Homo sapiens: one gene and its partners. The protein of the gene in region 2 interacts with the protein of the main gene of each other region in a pairwise test. Each region holds a gene or a part of one and is shown on either strand. Other genes may lie near its edges.

Region 1 (7,000 bases), on a different chromosome or scaffold from region 2:
TCTTGATGTGACTAGCTTCAATGGAATCGGCTCCTTCCATCCCAGCATGAAGCAATCCTGTATAACTTGCACACCCTCCCATTCTAAGGCCTCTCCTCTCATACCCTTGCCCAGTATCCTGTGAGATCCTGCCTCTCAGATTCCTCCCTCACCTTTTCAAACCCGGATTGTCTTTCACCCTTCCACAGGGCCTCCTCTTCCTGCCTTCCTCTTATTTGTCCCCTCAGCCATCCTCACCTCACCAATCTTGATAATTGATTACAATATAAATCTCCCTTCCATCTCAGGTCTGCTCCTTTCTTCCTCCACTCTCTTGTGCATCTATCTCCAGGGCCATGCGTATGCCCCTGCTGCTTTCAGCTCTGCTTCCTTCATATGCTGCACTGTTCCACCAAACTTCATCAGTCTCTTCGGTTTATCCAGAGAACTACACTCTTCTCTGGGAACTTCTGATGACTTCTGATAATAGATCACCAAAGGATCTTGGTTTTTTAGAGGGCAGGGAGAGAGCCCTTTGAAGTCCTTCAGAATCAATCTAGCTGTGTCTCCTGGACACCCTCCCACTATCCTATCCTGTTATGAAGCTGCTTGCTGTATATGCCCTCAGAGTAGAATGCTTTGGGTGTCAGCTTCTGCAGGCACTGAATTAGCCCCATTGTTTTCCAAGCCCTGGGAAAACTTGATAATCCCCAACCACTGAAGTCTGAAGAGTCAGTAGCAAAATGTGACATCAAAGATCCACATCCAAAAGTCTATTCTGTGGGTCACCAAATTCCCAGGTCTCTTATAATGTACTTATTGGCTGTGCAGCAATAAATACAGCAGAAACTAAAACTAGAGTTGAGGAAAGGGTATACCCTGGGTTCTACAACTGCTGTGGGTGGATTTTAAAAAGGAGTTCTTGCCTTAGATTTGTTTACTTAGGGCACAGAACTTATTCTGCCTTGTATTTGAGTTATTTGTGTACTTTTCTCAACCCCACTCTGTGAGCTCTGTGAGAACAGAGACTAGGTTTTCTTTTTTCTTTTCTTTTCGAGATGGAGTCTTACTCTGTCACCCAGGCTGGAGTGCAGTGGTGCAGTCTTGGCTCACTGCAACCTCCTCCTCCTGAGTTCAAGTGATTCTCACACCTCAGCCTCCCAAGTAGCTGGTGTTACAGGCGCCTGCAACCATGCCCAGCTAATTTTTGTATTTTTAGTAGAGACAGGGTTTCACCATGTTGGCCAGACTGATCTCTAACTCCTGACCTCAGGTGATCCACTCGCCTCAGCCTCCCAAAGTGCTAGGATTACAGGCATGAGCCACTGCACCTGGCTGGTTTTCTTTATCTTCTGTCTTCATCTCTTCCCTCACATTTAGCAGGTAGTCAGTACTTACCTGTTGGATTAAATTAACTCACTCAGAAATTCTGCATCAGGTGTACAAAAGTAAAAGCAGTTCATGTCTACATTCATTTTGTGGACACAACACCCCTCCCCAAAGTTCTCCAAACATGATAATGGGCATGTCCCTTGATTTAAACGTCGGTAATTTAGACACTTCCTTTTTTAGTCATTGCTCGGGTGGGGGAATGGGTGTAAGTGCTTTTCTTTTTCTACTGTATTTCTGGTAAGATAGGTTGTTTGACGCAGTTGCTCAAATACAGTGGTAACAGCATCAGGGGCTGTCTTATATAAATCTGTTCTCAAGAAAACAGCTAGTTTGAAATATTTAGTGTGGGTTGCAGAGACGATTAAGGAACAGAGGAAACCAAGGAGGCAAAATGTTGGTAATTTTTGAAGTTGGATAATGGGTTCAAGAGGTTCATTATACCATTCTTTCCATTTTTGTGTATGTTGGAAATCCATTATAAAAAGATTAAAGGCAGGGGCAGCTAGGTGAACAAGTGCAAATTTAGCACTGTTCCTTGGAAAACACCTCAGAGCAAATGAGCTACTGTTTCTGAATCAGTACTGTTATCTAGGTTAAGTAGTATATTTAGTCCTAACCTTTCTCTGACCTCTTCTGTTTGTGAGATATCAGGATGCTAAATTTAAAAATTAGCACCCTGCAGAATTCTGTACCTAGTGGCCTGGGAATTGTAACATCCTGGCATCAAGCACCTGTTGCACTGCTTCTCAGCTTAGGTATGGTTTCTGGTGGAATAGGGCTGGACTGGACCTGAGAAGAGGGTGAGGCAGTAAGGAGGAAAGAGGGACTGAGGGCTGGAGAGAGACCAGAGCTCTACTAGGGTCTTCCCCTTCTTGCCTAAAGGTTTCAAGTTACTGGGAGATCCTAAAGGTATATATATTCATTCATTCACTGATTCATTCATCCCACAAATATTTGGTGAATATCTGCTGTGTGCCAGGTACTTTTCTAGGTACTGGGAATAGAGCAGTGAGCTCACTGTTTGAGGAATGGACAGGGTAGAGACAGACAATAAACAAATAAGTAAAATATATATTGAGAAAATTAAGCAGAGAAGGGAGATAGAAAGTGCCAGGAGTAGGCCAGGTGCAGTGGCACACACCTGTAATCCCAGCACTTTGGGAGGCTGGGTTGGGTAGATAACATGAGGCCAGGAGTTTGAGACCAGCCTGGCCAACATGGCGAAACCCCAGCTCTACTAAAAATACAAAAATTAGCCAGGCGTGGTGGCAGGCACCTGTAATCCCAGCTACTCGGGAGGCTGAGGCACGAGAATCACTTCAACCCAGGAGGCAGAGGTTGCAGTGAGCTGAGATCACGCTGCTGCACTCCAGCCTGGGCGACAGAGCGAGACTCTGTCTCAAAAAAAAAAAAAAAAGAAGAAGAAGAAGAAGAAAATGCCAGGATTCTGGGTGTTAAAATTTTAAATAGGGTAGTTGAAGAGGTTCCCACTAAAAAGGTAACATTTGAGCAAAGACCTGAAGGAAGTTAGGGGGTAAGTCAAGCATACATCTAGGGGAAATTTATTCCAGTCAGGAAGAACAGCAAACACAAAGGCCCTGAGGCAGGAATGTGCCCTATATATTCAAGAAACATGAGGAAGCCAGCCAATACGGCTGCAGTATATTAGTGAGAGAAGAAATGGCAGATGTTGCGGTGGGGGTGAATTGGGGGCAGATCACACAGGCCACTGGCTTGTAGTGTGAGTTGTGAGTGAGATGGTAGCCATTAGAGAATTCTAGGCAGATAAATAACATGGCCTGACATATTGAAAAGGTCATTGTGGCTGCTGTGTTGAGAATAAGCTATAACGGGGCAAAAATGGAAGGAGAGAAACTGGTTAGGAGGCTACTACAATAGTCTAAACAAGAGAAGTTGGTGGCTTGAACCCAAGGTGAAGCAATGGAAAGGTGAGAAGTGGTTGGCTTCTGGATGTATTTGGAAAGGAGCCAACAGGATTTGCTGATGGACTGGATGTGATATATAAAAGAAATAGCAGTTGAGGGTGGCTACAATTTTTTTTTTTTTCAAGACATCTCGCTCTGTCGCCCACGGTGGAGTGCAGTGGCGTGATCTCAGCTCACTGCAACCTCCGCCTCCTGGGTTCAAGTGATTCTTCTGCCTCAGCCTCCTGAGTAGCTGGGACTACAGGTGCATGCCAGCGCACCCGGCTAATTTTTGTATTTTTAGTAGAGATGGGGTTTCACCATATTTGCCAGGCTGGTCTCAAACTCCTGAACTCGTGATCTGCCTGGCTCCCACATTTTTGGCCTAAGTAACAAAATGGTAAAATTCCCATCTACTGAAATTGGGGAGCCTGGAAGGAGGGCAGGTTGTTAGAAGGAGGAGATAAGGAATTCACTCTTGAACATGTCAAGTTCGAAGTGTTTTTTGGATATCAAAGTCGAGATGTTGAGTAAGCAGCTGGATATTCAAGTCTTTTGGAGCCTAGGAAATGTCTACTCTCAGGAAATAAAAGAACACCATCACCTGGCAAGAGACAGCGGAGTATGGGAAGAACACTGGTGGTCAGGTGTTAGGCCCTGCTCTGCCACCAGGTAGCTATGTGATCCTTTGGGACTCCTCTGGCAACGCAGGCCTCTGTCTCTTCATCTGCAAAATGACTGCTTTATTTTATTTTATTGTCTATTTCTTTTTTTTTTTTTTTTTTTTTTGAGACGGAGTCTCGCTCGTCACCCAGGCTGAAGTGCAGTGGCGCCATCTCGGCTCACTGCAAGCTCTGCCTCCCGGGTTCACGCCATTCTCCTGCCTCAGCCTCCTGAGTAGCTGGGACTACAGGTGCCCACCACCGCGCCCGGCTAATTTTTGTATTTTTAGTAGAGACGGGGTTTCACCGTGTTAACCAGGATGGTCTCTATCTCCTGACTTTGTGATCCGCCCGCCTTGGCCTCCCAAAGTGCTGGGATTACAGGCTTGAGCCACTGCATCCGGCCCCTTATCTGTTTCTTTGACAAGGTCTTGTTCTGTCACCCAGGCTGGAGTGCAGTGGCGCAATCATGGAGGCTCACTGCAGCAGTGACCTCTCCAGCTCAATCAGTCCTCCCATGTCAGCCTCCTGAGTAGCTGGGACTACAGAGATGGGCACCACCACGCCTAGCTAATTTTTGTATTTTTGGTAGAGAGGGTTTCACCATGCTGCCCAGGCTGGTCCTGAACTCCTGGGCTCAAGCCTCCACCTGCCTCGGTCTCCCAAGGTGCTGGGATTACAGGCATGAGTCACCACACCCAGCCAAAATGACCACTTTAGACTAGGAATGAGTTGTGTTCTCAGCCCCTCCTATTGTGGGAGTTGATGAATTAAGTGCTTAGAATAAACATGATAATATATGTGTATCTGAGAGCATTTTGGAAACTGCTGAGTTCTACACCAGGTAGTGGTATTGGCAATAAGATTTCTTCCTTCATTCGCTGAAGTAATACCCAGTGAGTGCCTGCCATGTGGTGGGCACTATGTCACATGAGGATACGATGATGGAGAAGACGAATCTGTGCCCTCAGGGAGCACCGCAGACAACCCCCTGTTGTGGCTTCACTGCCAAGTGCAGACGAAACATGGGGCTGGAGTGTGACATTAGCCAGGGAAAGCTTGTTCCTGATCTGGGTCTCCGTGGAAACAGTGAACGTGCATGTCAAAGATGAGGCAAGATGGTAATCCCGATGAGGGAAAAGTCATCCACTTAGCTGGACTAGGGAAGAGTTGGGAGTGGTTGGGAAGGGTTGGAGTGGTGGGGGCTTCAGTTCCTTCCCTCCTCCATTCTTTCGTTCAACATTTACTTCCTTGCCAGGAGCTTCTCTTAGAAGCTCACAGTTCTGTGGTAGATGAAGAGTTTCATATCTGGTCTCAGGAGTTCAACTTAGATATTACAATAAGCAGAACTGAATCAGGATTCAAATCTGAGCTAAAGAGCTCAGTTAGCTATGTAACCTAGTAGTATTAATCATTTGGTATCTGTGGGCACATTCTTTGTTAGGTGCTAATTAGGCTGAAAGGCATGCTCTCCAGGAACTTAAATTATAATCACTGTAACAGAAAGTAAGAATGTTATTTTCCCCTAAAAGAGTCAGGTGTTAAGGAAAACACACTCCGTGGCAGTGTAACCCTTTAACTGCATCTGGAAACTGTCCCTGTGGCTGTGTTTATTCTTGTGTCATTTAGATGTCTACGTTTATATCGTGAGGAGAGTCTCTTTGACCAGATAAGAGTATAAGATATAGCTCATCCTAATTGACAAAATTAGTCACCCACAAAATTAGTTTAGAGGAGACATAGTCAACATCTACCACGTAATGGAATGGGGAAATTTTGTCCTGGAGAGTGAAAAAAGAAAAAACAAACAAACAAAAAAAACGAAACCTGGCCGGGTGTAGTGGCTCACACCTGTAATCCGCACTTTGGGAGGCTGAGATGGGCAGATCACGAAGTCAGGAATTCAAGACCAGCCTGGCCAACATGGTGAAACCCCATCTCTACTAAAAATACAAAAATTAGCTGGGCATGGTGGCGTGCAGGAGAATTGCTTGAACCAGGACCCAGGAGGCGGAGGTTGCAGTGAGCCAAGATCGCACCATTGCTCTCCAGCCTGGGCTATAGAACAAGACTTCATCTCAAAAAGAGAGAAAAAAAAAAAAAAAACCACCTGCAATACAAATCCAAGTGCAGCTGAAGCCATTGTCTTTAACAGATGGCCCTAACCTGTTTTGAGTGCTGTTTCCTAAAGCTGCCAACAAACTTCAAATGCCTTTTACCCTGGCAGCTATCAGTCAAGATATAGAAATGTGATGGTCTCACAAATCCTATGCAATTGTCTCTTTTGCTGGCAAAAGTATGAGGCCAGCCGGGTGTGGTGGCTCATGTCTGTAATCCCAGCACTTTGGGAGGCTGAGGCGGGTGGTTCACCTGAGGTCAGGAGTTCGAGACCAGCTTGGCAAACATGGTAAAACCCCATCTCTACTAAAAATACAAAAATTTGCCGGGCATGGTGGCAGGCGCCTGTAGTCCCAGCCACTGGGGAGGCTGAGGCAGGAAAATAGCTTGAACCTGGGAGGCGGAGGTTGTGGTGAGCTAAGATCATGCCATTGCACTCCAGCCTGGGCGACAGAGCGAGACTCTGTCTCAAAAAAAAAAAAAAAAAAAAAAATGTATGAGGCGTACTCAGGCTCCTCTCTTCCAGTTCAGAATCAGAAGGATTTGTGATGTTGGACAGGTCATTCGGGGTCTCAGGCTCATTATACTGTCATTACCTGGAAGCCAGAGTGCCTCTTTTCTAGTGCCTCTATTTGACATTCCCTTAGAGCTGGCCCTCTGGTGAATAGTTCATCCCTAAGAAGGCCAGATACAACTTGTTACCCTGGTACTATCTCACTTCATCACTTCATTTGTTGGGAGTTCCTGCTACTTTTGGATGGTTGATAAAGCATGAGACCCATACAGTTAAGATAAGAACCAAGGAACTGGGAGCTCTTTGAGGTTGTAGAACTGACTTGAGGCTTTGATGTTGGGGATTTGGCAGGGGTGCCTAAGACCAGAGTTCTTTCTCTGAGATCATCTTCTCAACCCAGGAAATACTGT
Region 2 (7,129 bases):
GACTTGGAATTTTGGGCTAATGCTGGAATGGATTAAAACTTTGGGGTACTGTTGGAAAAGCATGATTGGTTTTGAAATTTGAAAGGGACTTGAGATTTGAGAGGGGCTGGGGTGAAATGATATGGTTAGGCTTTGTGTCCCCACCCAAATTTCATCTTGAATTGTAATCCCCATAATCCCCAAATGTTAAGGGAGAGACCAGGTGTAGGTAATTGAATCATGGGGGCAGTTTCCCCAGTGCTGTTCCCAGGATAGTGAGTTCTCATGAGATCTGGTGGCTTTATAAAGGGCTCTTTCCCCCTGCGTTCTGCACTTCTCCTTCCTGCCACCATGTGAAGAAGGTGCCTTGCTTCCCCTTCACCTTCTGCCATGATTGTCAGTTTCTTGAGGCCTCCCCAGCCACACTGAACTGTGAGTCAATTAAACCTCTTTCCTTTGTAAATTAACGAGTCTTGGGCAGTTCTTTTTAGCAGAATGAAAACAGACTAATACAATAGAGTCTAGCAATAGAGTGGAGAACAACATAGTTACAAGCTCTGCCCTCAGGGAAAAGAAAACAATAATCACATAAATAATTAGAATTGTCATAAATACTCTGAAATAAAAGTAAAAAATGCTAAGAGATCCATCATATTTTCCAGTTGGAAGGCAGGGAATGTTTCTCCCAAAAAGGTTATTTAAGCCGAGTTCTGAAGATAATATGATTTAGTCAGATGAAGGCCTGGTTATATGTGTGTTGATGGAGAATGGACAGAGAGAGTTGATCTAGCCTGGAAGAGTTGGACAGGTCTGAGGATTCAAAGCAAGTCAGTAGGGCTGGTAACACATATATGAGCAGAAACTGTGTTGTATTGGGCTGCTGAGTCTGGAAAAATACATAGGATTTTGGATGCCTTTGCAGACCAAGCAGCTAAGGACCAGCACATTTCATGGTGACTTGATGGTGTGCAAATTTGGTCCCTCTGATGAATCTTCTAGTTGAAATAATTTATCACTGTGAAATTAAGTCATCAAGTATAAGATGACCAGCTGACTTTTAGCCAGGTAGACAAGCTATCGACTTGGTATGATGAAACATCACTGAGTTCATTTTTATGCCTTTGTTTCCTCTCTGTCTCAGCTGCAAGTGTCCACTGCTTGGGAAAGTGTGGGAAGCTGACTTGGAAGCTTGTCGATTGCTTATCCAGAGCCTACAGCTCCAGGAAGCCAGGGGAAGCCTGTCTGTAGAAGATGAGAGGCAGATGGATGACTTAGAGGGAGCTGCTCCTCCTATTCCCCCCAGGCTCCACTCCGAGGATAAAAGGAAGACCCCTTTGAAGGTATTGGAAGAATGGAAGACTCACCTCATCCCCTCTCTGCACTGTGCTGGAGGTGAACAGAAAGAGGTCTGTCCTTTTCACATGGCCTCCAGAGGGGACCCTTATTCTAAGGGGTGCTTTGGGACCATGCTCCAAATGGGAACAATAAATATTGGGAAGGCTTCCCATTGAGCATATAAACTTTTAAAAGTTTCAATAACTCTTGAATATGATTACAAAATAAAGTAGAATTTTTGTAGAAGTTTGAAATATAGAAGAGCAAAAAAACCCAACTTTTGGCATATTTAGTTCCATTTTCATTCTAATTTAGTGGCTAGAATTAGAATATGCAGTCTAATATAGAATTACCATATATAGCATACATTATATATGTCATATATAATATAGTTATTATATTCACTATAGATTATATATGCCATACATGATATTTAACATATATACTATACATTATGTATTGTATGTCATATATGATGTTTATATATTTAGAATCTATATATTACAATATATTATTATTTATTTGAATGAAACATTCAAATATATGTATTTATCCCATTAATTGTTTTTACCAAAACCAGATCATAATGAATGTTTATAATGTTCTTCTTTCATAAACACAACTAAAGTTTGGCCTGAGATATATGTATTACAAATTAAAATATGGTTTTATTTAACTTTCTTTTTCTCTCCCCTCTTTCCTCTCTCCCTTCCCCTTCCACTCCTCACTTTCCTCCTCCCACCCTAACAAGAGTCTTTTCCATAAAAAGGCCCTAGGAAGTTTTTCCTGATTTCAGTGCCATGACCTGAGTCTTCAGAGCTCTTTGTTGGCCCAGGTTCACAGGTGTTGTGAGTGTGGAAAGGAAATAGCATGGAGAGGCTGGAGGAACTTGACACATGGCTTTCAAGTCTCATGGTTGATGTTAGATGTTAGCTGTGCTTCCTCCCTGGGTCTTTGCCAGGACTCACCACTGGTGGGTGGGGAAATTGCCACCTCCCCAGGCCAGCCCTGCCAGTCTCACATCCCATCTGCAGGACCATGGCCTTCAGAGAGCAGACATTTGTGTTCTTAGTCACTGCCTCTGGACTGCTTAGAAAATCGATCCTTGATCCTATATTTGGATTCCATGGTCTTATAAGAAAGCAACCACTGTCACTCTGCATCCTTGCTGGCCCAGTCACAGGCTCTACGTTAATTTATAGACATCTGAACTCGTTTGTTAACCCAGGTGCTACAGGTGGAATCCTCCAGCAAAGCCTGGTCTCCAATGCTCTGGGTAGAGGTGTTGAAAAGTTACCACCTGCTGCAAGTGGATGGCTTGAAAGAATATTCTGGGGTGGAGGGAAGTGCCACCTAAGCAAGGGTTTATTCCTGGGTGGAAGAAACTGCAGGCTCTGGGAATGAGTCTTTGAAGGTGTGTCTGGCTTTCCAAAGTGAGCTACCAGGAGGAGCTCGGTGTGGGGCAGTCAGAAGCCATGCCAGGTATGTGATGGAGTCCCTGGGTCATTGATTCTGCTGGAGGCCAGGACTGATTCAGCAGAGATCCCTTTCTCCTGTAGCGGAGAAAAATGAATATCTTTCCTTTACCCATCTAAAGGTTCTCAGCTGAGGCACCTATACAGACAGAGTAACAAGAGAAAAATGTACAAATGTGCTTAATATAAAATTTACATGACACAGGAGCCTGCAAAAATGAAGACCCAAAGCAACAGAAACCAGTGTATTTTTATGCTTAAGTTTGAAGAATAGCAGACAGATGTGGAGAAGTATAATTGGACAAAAGGAGTATGATTTAATGGCAATAAACTGGGGGGAGCTTAGCAAGGCCTGTTTGCTCGGATTCTTCGCTGCATCCCTGTGTCTTCAGAGATAAGGATACTCCTTTCCTTTGGGTATAGGTTGTACACTTTAAAGATGAGGGTGTTATAATCTACTTTAGAGGAAGGTCAGATAATTATTTATGGCCTGCTTCAGGAAAGAATGGCTGCAGAAGGTCAGAGAGACTTTCCTGCTTCTGCTGTTCCTCAAATGCCAAGGTGCCATATTTTGGGGTAGTGTATTCTGAACCCCATCACTCTCTCCCTCCCTTTCTCCCTCCTTCTCTGCCCTGCCCACTGAGCCCTGAGCCCTCCAGGTTCTCTGGGGACAGACTTTCCCAGGCATAGGAGGATTCGTTTTCCTGCATAGCATTATAAGCACCTGTCAATTTCACTATCTGGCTATAAGAACACAGAGCTATATTTGTTGAAAAATAGGAAGCTTGGGGTCAAGGATGAAAAAAGAGTGGAGCCTTATCCTAGGTCCTGTGGTGGCTGCTGTTTGGGTGCTCCAGGGGTCCCCCAGAAAGCCTCCCAGATCCTCTCCACCAATTGAAATGCTGAGGATGTCCTACATTTATTTGTTGCTTTCTTGGGGGTGAGTGGGTGCTTTAGAGGGGACCTTACAGCTTTTGCTGGCTTTCAGTATCATTTCCCTGTTCCTGTATCGCAGTGCTGGATTTATTTTCACAGAGAGGGCAGCCGTTCTCTGAATTCATGAGTGCCATGGATTTTAAGACAATGTTTTCTGAGAACGGCAAAATTATGGGGCCAGAAAACAGATAAATTGTTGCCAGGAAAGGGGAAGGGACTCATTACAAGAGCAACAGGAAGGAATTTGGTGCGTGGAAGTTGGGGGCGGTTGATAGAAGTATTCTCTCTCTTGATTGTGGTGGTAGTTACGTGACTGTGTGTATGTCTAAATCCATAATTTTACATCAGAAAGAGTGAATTTTACTGTGTATGACTTTATAACAATTATTTTAAAAAGTTTTTTTAAATGTCTACCTATTTAAAAACCGGGCTATAGATGTTTGAGTCAGTGCTTTTGTCTCAGGGCTATCAAAACGCAGTGTGGCCTGCTGGAAAGAGCACAAGGCTTGAGTCTGAGTCTGCCGTGATCCTCAGTTAGGCCTCTTACAGGCCGCATCTCCACATCTGTTAAGAAAAACACCACCACGACATAAGAGGATAATGAAAACTATCTCATGAAGCTGTGATGAAGATTTAAATAAAAGGATGCATCACGAAGTGAGAGACGCATACCTAGTAGAGGCTAATTTGTGTTAACTTTTGTTTCTATCACTCTTTCTGGCAGTCACAAGCATCTCTAAAATGCTTTTTGCATGCATAATGCTAGCAACAGCTATTTGTTTGTATGACTCAGTCTCCAGGCTTAACTTTCCCTTTTGCATAAGGAGTTTGGGGGTGCTTGAGATTGTTACATTTTCCTTTACATGTATAATATACTCACTTTTTGTCAAGAAGTAGACATGAGCAATGAGTTAGTGGAAGATACCCAGTCAGAGAAAGGTTTAACGAAGGAAAACTCCCGTTTGTATTCGGGTCCAGGATTTTAGACTACAGAAGGTATGGGGAAATGATAACAAGGGCCTCATTAGGAAGGTGCTTTTGTTTTCCTGCCTGTGTTTTCCGGGAGCCATTGAAGTCTGGGTACTTTGCATTTATCCTGTGGCTAAAATGTCTATTCGCTTTGCAGCTCTGGGTTGGTTTTGCTTTAGAACTCCGTGCTGGGTCTGACCATCCTATACTGGTTTCTCTACTGAAGCTTGATGCCCTGAAGGCAGTCAATTTCTTTTTGACCCAAATCTTCCATGAAAAATTACTGACTTCTTATAGAGGTCCACAGGAAGATGAGTTTTCAAAGCCTTTCCCGTGCTTATCTGGCCAACGTGGTGATGTGCATTCTGGTGATACTTTGTTATCACAAGGGCTTTGTCGTTGATCGACACCTTCCTGGGTCTACGGTCCTTGCCAGGCTGCTGAGCACCATTCCCCCATTTTACAGCTGGGCCCATTAAGGTGAAGCAATTTGCTTTGGACTTTGTTACAGAGGAAGTCAGCAACAGGGCTCAGTGCCAATCTTAGCATGAACTTCCTCGAATTGTAAGAGCCCTTTTCTTTTCCAGTTTCATGACAGCTCTCCTCCAAGCCTTTCTGAGGACTCTGGAAACTATCAGCTGCTGTTGGCCCTGGTTCGTAGATGTTACAGAAATTGAATGGGGGCCAGACAGGAGCCAGGGAAATCAGTGAGCCAGGCTTCCTCCGCTGTGAAGTGGCTCTTTTGTACGGGCTGTTCTGGCCATAATACCTGCGTAATTTTTTTCTTTCCTGTCTGCAACCTAGCCTGCGGGGTGCTTTCTGTTTCCATTGCTTTTTCTACATAATGGGCTCCCTGGACAGTACCACTCTCCCAGACTTCTCATCCCAGCTGCTTCCTTTCTGAGCCAGTAGCTCTCACCAAAGAGGCCAAAAGAGGACCTGGCAATGTTGAGTCATTGCGTGCAGTATGTGAGTAGCCAGTGTGTGAACACAGCTGCAGTGAACGGAATTAGCAATAAGACACAACGCAACCAGGTAGCCTCATTTGTTCAGATTGAGGTCTTCAAAAAGCATTTTAAGTTTACGGGTGGAAAGGTGTGATACCTTTCCTCAGCCATCATTAAGGGCTAACACTCCTATAACAAAAACAAGTTAACGAGAAAAACATAACACATTTATTTAATCAGAGTTTTACATGGCACAGGAGGCTTCAGAAATGAAGACCCAAAGACCCAGGAAAAACTATTTTTATGCTCAGATTTAATGCAGAATAGTCAGCTATGAAGGAATGTGATTGGACAAAATGGGTATGATCTAATGGTTATAGACTGGGGGGTGAGCGGACCAGCAAGCCCTGTCTGTTCAGATTCTTCTTGGACGCTCTGCATAGTATTTATTCCTCTTGGGTATGGGGCCGGACTCCTCTAAATGGAGGGCCTTCAAGGGAGAAGGAAGAGAGTGACCTTTCTAGGTTTTATGTTTGCTTTGAGGGAGAGGAGTCCTAGTTTCTAAGACTGGCTTTGAGGAAGAGGAATTCTGGTTTCTATGGCTTGCATCCAGGGAGAAAAAGGAGTGTGAGAGGGGAGGGCAAGAGAAGGCAGAGAGATCTTGCTTCTGAGGCCTTCCAATCTCCTTTGGTTCAAAGTACTCAGGCATACCAAAGTGTCACACTTAGGGGTATCATACTGTGAGCCACAACATAAATATCTCCATTCCTTTTTACTCAATTTCACATAAAAAAAGCTGGAAAAGGTGATCCACAATGAAGATGTTTGTCCTCCTTGTCTTAAACTGATTTCTATATCTAGAAATGTCTTTATTGGGCAAAAGTGCTTCCTCTTCAGCCATAATGGGTGCAGATCTGATTCTTTCTCTTCTCTGACACTTACTGGCCCTGGGACAGCTGGAAACTCACTTTGACTCTCCAAGGAGCACATCCCTAAATGTGTGATCTCTTGATATCTCTCCCACTTTTGAAAAGAACTGACAAGGGAAAAATGTTCACTTACCCATCAGCTGGTTTTGCTCTTTTTGTTTAATGTCTTTGGGGAGAAAGCAAAGAGCTAGGACATGAAGAAAACTTCTATCTCCACTACATTTTGAAGTTTTGCAAACCCAGCCATCTTTCCCAAGAGCAGAGCAGTAGAAGCAACCAGGATGCAACCAGGGTTGGTAATTGGTTGGTTAATTAAAAAGTCAGAAAAGACAGAGAGTCATAAAAGATGATGCATGCGTATTTTAAACCTTTTTGTTTCTAGCTGAAAACATGCCCTCTCATTTGCTATTCATTCGATATAGGACCAAGTATTTCTGTTTGTAGAGCCTGCTGATTGGCTTTTCACATGACCCTCGTTGTGTAAACCTCACCTATCATGCATCATTAACAGTTTCCACTTTTGGTGTCTTTAAAGTGGGCTGGAAACGTTAAGAGCACT
Region 3 (7,000 bases), on a different chromosome or scaffold from region 2:
CCCTGAGCTAGACATAGGGTGCTGATTGGTGTGTTTACAAACCTTGAGCTAGATACAGAGTGCTGATTGGTGCACTCACAATCCCTTAGCTAGACACAAAGGTTCTCCAAGTCCCCACTAGACTCAGGAGCCCAGCTAGGTTCACCCAGTGGATCCTGCACCAGGGCCCCAGGCGGAGGTGCCGGCCAGTCCCGCTGTGTGCCCGCACTCCTCAGCCCTTGGGCTTTTGATGGGACCAGGTGCTGCGGAGCAGGGGGTGGCGCTCGTTGGGGAGGCTGGGGCGCGCAGGAGCCCACGGTGGCAGGGGGAGGCTCAGGCATGGCGGGCTGCCGGTCCCCAGCCCTGCCCTGCGGGGAGGCAGCTAAGGCCCCGTGAGAAATTGAGCACAGCAGCTGCTGGCCCAGGTGCTAAGCTCCTCACTGCCAGGGGCTTGCGGCCAGCCGGCTGCTTGGAGTGTGGGCCTGCGGAGCCCACACCCACCCAGAACCCTCACTGGCCGGCAAGCGCTGCGCGCAGCCCCAGTTCTCACCGGCACCTCTCACTCCACACCTGCCTGCAAGCTGAGGGAGCCAGCTCCGGCCTTGGCCAGCCCAGAGAGGGTCTCCCACAGTGCAGCAGCAGGCTGAAGGGCTCCTCAAGCACCGCCAGAGTGGGCGCCAAGGCCGAGGAGGTGCCCAGAGTGAGCGAGGGCTGCGAGGGCTGCCAGCATGCTGTCACCTCTCACTATGAACATTTCATGTGCAGGTTTTTGTGTGGATATATTGTTAAACTCATTTAGGTAAATATGATCACTGGATCATATGGCAAGACTGTTTAGCTTTGAAAAAGACTACCCAATTGTCTTGCAAAGTGGCTTTTCCATTTTGCATCCCCACCAGCAATAAATAGAAATTCTTGTTGCTTCACATTCTTGCCATCATTTGATGTTGTCAATGTTTTGGATTCTAGCCATTCTAATAGGTATGTAATGGTATCTCATTTTTGTTTTAATTTGCAATTTCCTGATTACATATGATGCTGAACATCTTTTCATATGTCTATTTGCCATCCATATTTCTTTTTTGTTGAGGAGTTTGTTCAGATCTTTTGCCCACTTTTCTTTTTTTTCTTTTTTTGAAACGGCGTTTCACTCTTGTTGCCCAGACTGGAGTGCAATGGCATGATCTCGGCTCACTGCAACCTCCACCTCCCAGGTTCAAGCAATTCTCCTGCCTCAGCCTCCTGAGTAGCTGGGATTACAGGCTCCTGCCACCACGCCCAGCTAATTTTTATATTTTTAGTCGACACAGGGTTTAACCATGTTGGCCAGACTGGTCTGGAACTCCCAACCTCAGGTGATCCACCCACCTCAGCCTCCCAAAGTGCTGGGATTACAGGCATGAGCCACCATGCCCGGCCTTGCCCACTTTTTAACTGGGGTATTTTCTTATTATTAAGTTATCAGAATTCTTTGTATATGTTGGATGTAGTCCTTTGTCAAATATGTGTCTGGCAGGTTTTCTTCCAGTCTCTATGGCTTCTCTTTTCTTTCATTTTCTTGTTTTTTATTTTTTTTTATTTTTTGAGTCTTTCTCTGTAGCCCAGGCTGGAGTGCAGTGGAGTGATCTCAGCTTACTGCAACCTCCACCTCCCGGGTTCAAGCGATTCTCCTGCCTCAGCCTTCCGAGTAGCTGGGACTGCAGGTGCACACCAACATGCCCAGCTAATTTTTTTATTTTCAGTAGAGACAGGGTTTCACCATGTTGGCCAGGCTGGTCTCAAACTCCTGACCTCAGGTGATCCGCCTGCCTCAGCCTCCTAAAGTGCTGGGATTACAGGCATGAGCCACCATTCCCGGCCTCTTTTCATTTTCTTAACAGTATCTTTCACAGAGTAGAAGTTTATAATTTTAATGAAGTTGAATTTATCAATTTTTTTTGTTTCATGTATCATGCTTTTGGTATTATATATGAAAACTCATAGCCAAACCCAAGGTCAGCTAGATTTTCTCCTGTATTACCTTCTAGAAGTTTTGCAGTTTACATTTCAGTATATAACCCATTTTGAGTTAATATTTGTGACAGGGATGAGGTCTGTGTCTAGATTCACTTTTTTACATATGGATATTCGTTGTTCCAGCACCATTGCCTTTGTTTCTTTGTCAAGGATCAGTTGACTCTATTTATGTGGATCTATTTCTGGGCTCTTTATTTGGTTTCATTGATTCATTTGTCTGTTTCTTCACCAATACCACACTGTCTTAATTACTATCATTTTATAGTAAGTCTTTTTTTTTTTTTGAGATGGAGTTTTGCTCCTGTTGGCCAGGCTGGAGTGCAATGTCACGATCTCAGCTCACTGCAACCTCTGCCTCCTGGGTTCAAGCGATTCTCCTGCCTCAGCCTCCCAGGTAGCTGGGATTACAGGTGCCCACCACCACACCTGGCAATTTTTGTATTTTTAGTAGAGACGGGGTTTTACCACATTTGCCAGGGTGGTCTTGAACTCCTGACCTCAGGTGATCCACCCACCCGCCTCGGCCTCCCAAAGTGCTGGGATTACAGGTGTGAGCCACCACGCCTAGCCTAGTAAGTCTTAAGGTCAGGTAGTGTCAGTTTTCCACCTTTGTTCTTTTTTAATATTGTGTTGGATATTCTGGATCTTTTGCCTCTCCACATAAACTTTGGAATCAATTTGTCGATATCCATACAGTAATTTGCTGGGATTTCTTTATTGCAATTGCATTGAATCTATAGATCAAGTTGGGAAGAACTGACATCTTAACAATATTCATTCTTCCTATTCATGTGCATGAGATAACTATTTGTTTAGTTCTTGATTTTATCAGAGTTTTATAGTTTATAGTCTTTTCCCAGAGTTTTATATTTCTCCTAATATAGATCTTACACATATTTTGTAAGATTTATACCTAAGTATTTCAATGTTTGTGTTAATATAAATGGCATTGCATTTTTAACTTGAGCTTTCCATTGCTTATTGCTAGTATGTGGGAAAACATTTGACTTCTGTGTATTAACCTTACTTCTTGCAACCTTGCTGCAATCACTTATAAGTTCCAGGAGTTTTTTTGTTCTTTTTTTTTTTAATAGATTCTTTGAGATTTTCTGCATAGACAATCAGTCATCTGCAACCAAGGCAATTTTATTTCTTCCTTTCCAAAATATATATCTTTTATTTCCTTTTCTTGGCTTATTCCATTAGGTAGAACTTCTAGTATGATGTTGAAAGAGAGTAGAGAGAAGGGACATCTTGTCATGTTCCCAGTCTTAGGGGTAAAGCGTGTAGTTTCTCACTGCTAAGTATGGTGGTAGCTGTATGTTTTTTGTAGATGTTCTTAATCAAATTGAAGAAGTTCCCCTCTATTCCTAGTTTACTTAGAGCTTTTATCATGAATGAGCATTGGATTTTGTCAAATGCTTTTTCTGTGTCTACTAATATGATTGTGTGACTTTTCTCCTTTAGCCTGTTGATGTGATAGGTTTATGTTAATTGATTTTCTAATGTTAAACCAGCCTTGCATACCTAAAGTAACTCCTATTTGGTCATGTGGTATAATTTTTCAAATACATCATTGGATTCAATTTGCTAATATTCTTGGAGAGGAAGTTTGTTTGTTTGGTTGGTTGGTTGTTTTTTTTTTTTTTTCTTTGAGACAGGATCTCGCTCTTTTCCCCGGTCTGGAGTGCAGTGGTGCAATCATGGCTCACTGCAGTGAGAGGAAGATCTGAGAATTACCTCCCCTCCTTTCACTTGACTGGCCCATCAAACTCTTTCTTTGCTGCAAAACTCGCTGTTTTTAGTGCATTGGTTTTCTGAACAGCAGGCAAGATGAACCCGTCAGGCTGTTACTTGCTTCCAGCTGTCTCTTCTTCCTCTTCCCTCTCCTTCCCTCTCTCCCACCTCCTCACTCTACACCTTCTCCTCATGCTGCTTTGTTCATACTCTAGGTCTCAACTACCTGAGGCTCCAGCTCAGACTTCCCTTCTGAACCCCAGACCCACCCAGCATCTCAGCCAGCCAGCTGCCCACCCAGCATCTCAAAGTCCACCACCTTGTCTGCAGCGTGGAAAACTGCTCCTCTGTCAGGGCCTGCTGTCTCCCCAGTCACTCAAACCCAAACCGCCTAGGTTTCTCCCCTCTCCTTCTCTGCATAGTTGCCTTCAGTCCCTTCCATTTGGCAGCAATTCCTCTTCCCCCTCCTCCATCTCCACTGCTACAGTTTTGATTTAGGCCCACATGGCTTCCCAGAGACCCCCTCCTAGCTAGGCCCTTTGCCTCCAGCTCTGCAGAAGGCAAAGCTGATCCTGTGTGCACCCTCTGAACATCTCCAGCGCCTCAGGATAAAGTCCAGGCTCCTTAGCTGGGCAGATCAGACCCTTCTTCTGGTGCCTCCCCAAATGTGCCCTGCCCTCTGGCCATTCTGAACCTTTCATAGTTCCCCACACTCATCACATTCTCTGCACATGCTGTTCTGGCAGGAGAGCCCGTTGCCCCCCACTCAGGCACCGTCCCTTCCCCACCCAGGTGAATTTCTTCTGCATTCAGCTTCAAATTGACTGAGATGCCTGTCTCTCCTGCAGCTTCTCTCTCCCCAGACAGCCTCTCAGAGTGCTTAACACCTCTCATTCTCAAACCAGCTGAACGTTAGGCTCACCTGGGAAGCTTTAAAAATACAAAAATGTTAGCTGGGCGTAGTGGTGCATGCCTGTAGTCCCAGCTACTCGGGAGGCTGAGGCAGGAGAATCGCTTGAACCCAGGAGATGGAGGTTGCTGTGAGCCGAGATCGTGCCATTGCACTCCAGCCTGGGCAACGAGAGTGAAACTCCATCTCAAAAAAATAAAAATAAAAATAGACACCCTGGCCACAGCCCAGATAATTAATTTCAAATCTCCACTGGCCTCATGAATAGCACAGATTAGATACTAATACTCTGGGGGCCGGTCTGGACCACAGGTGTCCTCTCAGTGCAGGCATTACTGTCTATCCCAGAGGCTCCGTTGGGCCAAGAGCACCACTTTTCATACAGTGATAATGATAATTATTTCCATGCATTCTTCCACTTAATCTCACAAACTCCCTGTGAAGTTCGTAAGTATCAGAGTCCCATTTTACAAATGGGAAACGAAAGCAAAGAGGTTAAGTAATTTGCCTGGGGCACAGTGTACATTCAATGAGTACCAGTTCCTCAGTGACTTCAAGTGCAAATTGGGAGTAGAAAAGGAGAAAAGCTTTACAAGTTACTGTGTTCATTCATTCAGTGACAATTCTACAAATGACAGTTGAAGGCCTGTTCTGGGCAAGATGTTGAGATTTAGCAAATGAATAAGGTATTAGGACCCCTGCCCTTAAGAGGTCTCTTTGTAAAGGGAAGTAATGTAAATAAAATAATAGATAATTATAATACACTGAGGTTAAGTTTAGTGATCAAGGGGTGCCCTAGGGATTCTGGGAGTCCACAGAGTGCCCTGAGGGGAATCCTAGAGGCTAACTGGGAGTTAGTGGGAAGGTAAAGGGCTGGGATGGGGAGGCCTGGGAGGAAGGCCTCCCAGGTAGAGGAGTGGCTGAAGCCAGCCTCTGAGATGCCACTGGGCTTAATCCACAGCAGGAGCCACAAACCCAAAACATCTGCTGTGGCTGATGGGAAATAAAAGTGAATCCAGCAGGTTTAAGAGAAAGAACAACATTTATGTGCAGTGATAATGGGCAGCTGATGTGCCAGCTGCAGCATCTGGAGGTGGCAGGGACAGTGGTTTAATGGAAAGAACCTATTATGCACCAAAGGAACTCTCTGCATAGCAGCTGCTGTCCGTGTGGGACGATGGGCCCAGCATTGCCAGATCTGTAAACTTTTATAAAAGAAGCTGGTGTAAACTAAACATAAAATTCAGAGGCCCCCCATCCATCTGAATGGACTTCCTTCTCAGCCAGGGCACTCCAAAGTTAACCTGAAAGACCAGTTCAGGCCTTGATGGGAAGCAAGGGTTGGACACGCCTCATTATACCCTCCTCCCTTTTGGAATTCAGGAAAAGTTGACCAACATTTAACATCAACACAGACCTTAAGTCTGATAAGAAACATTTACAATCTATTCTCTCTGAAGCCTGCTACCTGGAGGCTTCATTTGCATGATCAAAACTTTTATCTCTTTTATTCTAACCCAGATATTCCTTTCTATTTATAGTAACTCTTTTAACCAATTACCAATCAGAAAAATTTTAAATCTACTTATCACCTGGAAGCTCCCCCCTCCCAACCTTGGAGTTGTCCTGCTTTTCTGGACCAAATCGGTATATATCTTAAATGTATTTGATTGATGTCTCAGGTCTGCCTGAAATGTATAAAACCAAGCTGTGCCCTGACCACCTTGGGCACGTGGTCTCAGGATCTCCTGAGGGCTGTGTCACAGGCCATGATCACTCACATTTGGCTCAGAATAAATCTCTTCAGACTGGGTGCAGTGGCTCACACCTGTGATCCCAGCACTTTGGGAGGCTGAGGTGGGTGGATCACTTGAGATCAGGAGTTCAAGACCAGCCTGGCCAACATGGTGAAACCATGTCTCTACAAAAACATACAAAAATTATCTGGGTGTGGTGGTGCATGCCTGTAGTCCCAGCAACTCAGAAGGCTGAGGCAGGAGAATTGCTTGAGCCCAGGAGGCAGAGGTTGCAGTGAGCCAAGATTGTGCCACTGCGCTCCAGCCTGGGTGACAGAGCGAGACTTCATCTAAAAAAAAAAAAAAAAAAAAGTACATCTCTTCAAATATTTTACAGAGTTTGACTGTTTTTGTTGACACTGGAAATCTGATATTGAAACTACAATTCTTTGAATGTTGGCAACAAATTCAAATCCTAACATAGTGTTCTGTAAGAGCCAAACAAAAATGTCTGTGGGATGTGTTAAACTAACTGTAGCCTAAAGCTGCCTTCTTATATATTCTAAGTTCAGCCTAAAGGTTTCTCTGTACGTAGTAAACTGTAACCTGACTAGGAATTTAA

What was found. The genes of interacting proteins can lie anywhere in the genome.
Region 1: the proteins of DISC1 (region 2) and ZNF76 interact in binary tests that used the Homo sapiens proteins (3 or more experiments, as listed by UniProt).
Region 3: the proteins of DISC1 (region 2) and CCDC13 interact in binary tests that used the Homo sapiens proteins (3 or more experiments, as listed by UniProt).

What each region holds. Positions count from the first base shown.
Region 1 is NC_000006.12:35,262,735-35,269,734, forward strand, and holds part of ZNF76 (zinc finger protein 76), read left to right. Parts: intron 1-7,000. UniProt on the Homo sapiens protein: May be involved in transcriptional regulation.
Region 2 is NC_000001.11:232,007,665-232,014,793, forward strand, and holds part of DISC1 (disrupted in schizophrenia 1 protein), read left to right. Parts: intron 1-1,120; coding exon 1,121-1,385; coding exon of another isoform or gene 1,386-1,490; exon of another isoform or gene 1,491-1,990; intron 1,991-7,129. UniProt on the Homo sapiens protein: Involved in the regulation of multiple aspects of embryonic and adult neurogenesis. Required for neural progenitor proliferation in the ventrical/subventrical zone during embryonic brain development and in the adult dentate gyrus of the hippocampus.
Region 3 is NC_000003.12:42,763,254-42,770,253, reverse strand, and holds part of CCDC13 (coiled-coil domain-containing protein 13), read left to right. Parts: intron 1-7,000. UniProt on the Homo sapiens protein: Required for primary cilia formation and promotes the localization of the ciliopathy protein BBS4 to both centriolar satellites and cilia.